2 separate regions of the Homo sapiens genome follow, and region 2 is linked to region 1. Evidence: fine-mapped expression QTL. Tissue or cell type: whole blood. Region 1 holds a variant in brackets; the other region holds the start of a gene. All regions are shown on one strand. Distances are from middle to middle.

Region 1 (2,852 bases):
CAAACTATGTTCAACTCACTCTCTACATTTCTCATAACTTCCAAAATCTATTTTCTTCCTCATACCTGACGCATATACTTTCTGCTCCCCGGCTCCTTCAGCTGTACTCACTCTTTAAGTCCCACAATTACCATTGTTCCTGCCCCGGACTTCAATCTGGCCTCCCACATTATTCCTGATGCCACACCTGACCCCCATGACTATCTCTCTGATCCACCTGATATTCACCCCATTTCCCCATATTTCCTTCTTTCTTGTTCCTCACCCTGATCATGCTTGATTTATTGATGGCAGTTCCACCAGGCCTAATCGCCACACACCAGCAAAGGCAGGCTATGCTATAGTACAAGCCACTAGCCCGCCTCTCAGAACCTCTCATTTCCTTTCCATCGTGGAAATCTATCCTCAAGGAAGTAACTTCTCAGTGTTCCATCTGCTATTCTACTACTCCTCAGGCATTATTCAGGCCCCCTCCCTTCCCTACACATCAAGCTCGAGGATTTGCCCCCACCCAGGACTGGCAAATTAGCTTTACTCAACATGTCCTGAGTCAGGAAACTAAAATACCTCTTAGTCTAAATAGACACTTTCACTGAATAAGTAAAGGCCTTTCCTACAGGGTCTGAGAAGGTCACCACAGTCATTTCTTCCCTTCTGTCAGACATAATTCCTCAGTTTAGCCTTCCTACCTCTATACAGTCTGATAACAGACCAGCCTTTATTAGTCAAATCAGCCAAGCAGTTTTTCAAGCTCTTAGTATTCAGTGAAACCTTTATATCCTTTACGGTCCTCCGTCTTCAAGAAAAGTAGAACGGACTAAAGGTCTTTTAAAAACACACCTCACCAAGCTCAGCCACCAACTTAAAAAGGACTGGACAATACTTTTATCACTTTCACTTCCCAGAATTCAGGCCTGTCCTCAGAATGCTACAAGGTACAGCCCATTTAAGCTCCTGTATAGACAGACGCTCCTTTTTATTAGGCCCCAGTCTCATTTGACACCAGACCAACTTAGACTGTGCCCCAAAAAAACTTGTCATCCCTACTATCTTTTGTCTAGTCATACTCCTATTCACCATTCTGAACTACATGCCCTGCTCTTGTTTACACTGCCGGTTTACACTGTTTCTCCAAGCCATCACAGCTGATATCTCCTGGTGCTATCCCCAAACTGCCACTCTAAACTCTTGAAGTAAATAAATAATCTTTGCTGGCAGGACTATGCTGAATCTCCTTAGGCACTCTCTAATCAGATGTCCTAGGTCCTCCCAATTCTTAGACCTTTTATACCTGTTTTTCTCCTTCTCTTATTCCATTTAGTTTTTTAATTCATACAAAACCGTATCCAGGCCATCACCAATCATTCTATACGACAAATGTTCCTTCTAACAACCCCACAATATCACCCCTTACCACAAGATCTTCCTTCAGCTTAATCTCTCCCACTCTATGTTCCCACACTGCCCCTAATCCCGCTTGAAGCAGCCCTGAGAAAAAT[C/T]GCCCATTCTCTCTCCATACCACCCCCAAAAATTTTCGCCGCCCCAACACTTCAACACTATTTTGTTTAATTTTTCTTATTAATATAAGAAGGCAGGAATGTCAGGCCTCTGAGCCCAAGCCAAGCCATCACATCCCCTGTGACTTGCACGTATACACCCAGATGGCCTGAAGTAACTGGAGAATCACAAAAGAAGTGAAAAGGCCCTGCCCCGCCTTAACTGATGACATTCCACCATTGTGATTTGTTCCTGCCCCACCTTAACTGAGTGATTAACCCTGTGAATTTCCTTGTCCTGGCTCAGAGTCTCCCCCACTGAGCACCTTGTGACCCCCGCCCCTGCCCACCAGAGAACAACCCCCTTTGACTGTAATTTTCCATTTCCTTTCCAAATCCTATAAAACGGCCCCACCCCTATCTCCCTTCGCTGACTCTCTTTTTGGACTCAGCCCACCTGCACCCAGGTGAAATAAACAGCCATGTTGCTCACACAAAGCCTGTTTGGTGGTCTCTTCACATGGACGTGCATGAAAGGATTATAAATCATAAAGCCACTTTGGCAAAAAGTTTGAAAAATTTTTTGAAAGTTAAATCTAAATGTATCTTATGGTTTAACAATTCTATTTCTGATAACCTACCCGGGATAAATTAGAACATTTGCCCACAGTTTTGTATGTGAATGTTCATAGCTGCATTATTTATAATAATGCATAACAGGAAGCAATCCAAATGTCTACTAACTGGTAAATGAATAGACAAAATATTCTGTATCTATAAAATGGAATACTATTGTATAGATAGAGCACATAAATAGTAATAAAAATGTAAGGGATATACAATAGAATAGTGCACAGGCATAAAAAGGAATGTATTAACAGCATTTGCAGTGACTTGGATGAGATTGGAGACTATTATTCTAAGTGAAGTAACTCAGAATGGAAAACCAAACATCATATGTTCTCACTGATATGTGGGAGCTAAGCTATGAGGACGTAAAGACATAAGAATGATACAATGGACTTTAGGGACTTAGGGGGAAGAGTGAGGTGGGGCGGTGAGGGATAGAAAACTACAAATATGGTGCAGTGTCTACTGCTCGGGTGATGGATGCACCAAAAATTCACGAATCACCACTAAAGAACTTACTCATGTAACCAACTACCACCTGTACCCCAATAACTTATGGAAATTTTTTTTTTAAAGTAAGGAAATGTTGATACATGTTACAATGTGGATAAACCTTAACAACATTAGAAGCTAAATGCAAAAGACTGCACAATGGATGATTCCATTTATATAGAATGTCCAGAAAAGTAAAATTTATAGAAACAGAAGTGAATCAGTGGATGCCTG
Region 2 (2,676 bases), 89 kb after region 1:
CACCATACTAATTCTTTGTATTCCTATTTGGAACTACTGCTGCCCATATTTTTTGAAAAACAACACCATGGCTGTCTATTCTATCAAATCAAAAGAAGTTTTTTCACAGTTGACATATTAATTTTTCTACCTGGCTAAAGAAAATGTGCTTTTTAGTTTACTTATAACAATTTTGTAATTTAGATGTGGGGAGGGCTTGTCTTGGATATTATTGCTTCTTTTTGTTTTTGTTTCTCTTTCTTCTTCCTAGCTGTTTTCACTTCCTAGCTATTTCCACTATGGGTGCAATGGAGATGGTGACAGGAGTGTGGGCCAGAGAGAGGGGGAAGCCAGTGTGAGACGGACCTCTCCCAGCTATACATCTGGGAAGGGGAGTCTATAAACAGCTGGGGTTTTGTTTTTGTTTCATTTTTATGATAATTTGTTTGTATTAGTGTTTAATTCCATAACTAACACATAGATGGACTTTCCTCACAACAAAGGACGTCAAAGGTCAGTGCTCGCTCGGCCTGATCCCCTCTCACTCCTTAAGGGGTGGACGGGCGCCGTATCCTTCCCTACCTCTTTCTACCTATTTACACACAAGTTGGAAACTTGCAGAACTGTGAAAACTTCGAAAATCACGTCTCTTCCCTATTCCCCTACACACATCAGGGCTTCATCTGACAGTGGAATACGACCCGGGCCCCGGTGCTCACTCCCGGCGTTGCCCTTCGCTCCGGGACCTGGTGGTCCTCTCTCTCTGCGCCCCAAAACGCCCTGTCCTAGCTCCCTGAGCCCCAGGGACGCCGGGTCCTCTCTTTGTGCCCCAAGACTTCCTGCCCTTTCTCTTGCGCCCCGAGACGTCCTGTCCTCTCTCTCGCTCCCCGGGTTGCTCTGTGCTCTCTTAGCGCTCCAGAACGCCCTGTCCTCTCTCTTTGAGCCCCGGGACACCCTGTCCTCGCTCCCCGAGGCCCCGGGACGCCCTGTCCTCTCTCTCTCTGCGCCTCGGGATGCCCTGTCCTCGCTCCCCGAACCCCCGGGACGCCCTGTCCTCTCTCTTTGCGCCCCAGGATGCCTTGTCCTCGCTCCCCGAGCCCCCGTGACGCCCTGTCCTCTCTCTTTGCGCGTCGAGACGCCCTGTCCTCGCTCCCCGCGCCCCCGGCCGCCTTACCCTCCGAGGAGCGAGGCCACAGGGCAGCCGGGACCCCAGAGTAAAGAAAACCCTGGCCGGTAGCTTCATGTTGAGTCTCCAGAACTCGGGCCGGAAGGCGGCGCAGGCGGTTGGGCGCAGGGGGCGGGACAAAAAGAACAAAGTTCTCGGGGCTGGAAACGCTGCCTAGGCCGCCGGGGGATGGGACGGGGACTGGGACCCAGGCGGCGTGGACGCCCAGCGGCCCTGACCTTCAGAGTCCGGCCGAGGGCGCCGCCTAGCTGGGCCTAGCTGATGCTCTTTCCTGCTCTCTGGGCCAGGAGTGCTTTGTATGGCAGAGAATGGAGGTTCTTTGCGTCCTTGAGCGGGTGTACGAAACCCCGCGCCCTGCAAGGGTTTGCAGATTGCAGCTGCGCACCCCATACACTGCCTATCAAGGGCGAAACTCTTTTTCAGTCGTATGTGTTTATCCCTTAAGTGCGTGTTTAAGTGCAGAGTGCGCGTGGCGCCAAGTCACATATTATCAGAATAATAATATGTTGGATGTAAAACACGGCCTCACTTTCCCTAAGACCAAGAGGCTGAAAAACACTAAGGGCAGCTTCCGGCGTTTTGACTTTTCGCAGGACACACCGCCCCCTGTCGCCGGATGCAGCGTGACTGCGACCGCCCAGCCTTGGCTTTTTTCTCGAAGTTAAACACACGTTAAAGGCAAACACAGATTCAGTATATCATTCTCCATCTTAGTGTAATATACCTGTTGACACAAGGCATTAGCTCAGATCACATTTCTTTCCTCATTCGTAAAATGAGAATATTCATAGCTAATTCAGAATTTTAGATAAAAGAAGATGGGTGTGAGGCCCCAGGCTGAGGCTGATGGTAGATGATATTGAGTGTTTACTATTTGCCTGGCATGTTCCAAATGCTGATAAAGAAACATTTATATCTTCAGAGGAATGTACACTTACATGTAGACATATAGCTTATAAGGTATATAAACTCTGAAAAACTTTGTAATTTTGAGTTGGTCTGGTGATAATTTCCAGGCCTTCTGCCTGTAACTGGTTACAGAAATAAAAACTTTCTTCATCCCCAGTTCATCGACATCTCATTATTGGCAGCAAGAAATAGCAGCCTGACCCTCAGTTTGGTCCAGGAACAAAACTACCACAGATTGGGTGGCTTAAATGGAAATTTGTTTTCTCACAATTCTGGAGGCCACAAGTCAGCAGAGTTGGTTTCTTGTGGAGCCACTGTGGGACCATCTTCTCCCTGTGTCTTTACATGATCCTCCTGTGTACCTTTCCATATCTAAATTGCCTCTTCTTATGAGGACACCAGTCGTGTTGGATTAAGGCCCACCCTCAATGACCTAATTTAACTGGAATTACCTCCCTAAAGACTCTATCTCCAAATATAGCCACATTCTGACATACTGGGGGTTAAGAGTTCAATGTATATATTTGGCTGGGAGAAGAGGGAAGTACACAATTCAGCCCAGAACACTTGCCCTCTTAAATAACTTTTAGACCAGCTTAGGA

Evidence for each region. PIP is the estimated chance that this variant, and not a neighbour inherited with it, causes the effect.
Region 2: DECR1 starts here. The variant in region 1 is fine-mapped to the expression of DECR1 in whole blood (TOPMed, PIP above 0.99).

Annotation. Positions count from the first base shown.
Region 1 is chr8:90,089,404-90,092,255 of GRCh38, reverse strand. No RefSeq gene overlaps it. Among named protein-coding and RNA genes, the nearest start is that of CALB1, 8.0 kb to the right of the region's middle. The variant C/T (reference allele first, on the strand shown) is at 1,500.
Region 2 is chr8:90,000,039-90,002,714 of GRCh38, reverse strand. It overlaps DECR1 (2,4-dienoyl-CoA reductase 1), which reads right to left and starts at 1,238. Exons shown (of 10, transcript NM_001359.2): 1 at 1,154-1,238. The coding sequence starts at 1,222. RefSeq lists enhancers at 612-751, 1,600-1,894 and a silencer at 1,222-1,321.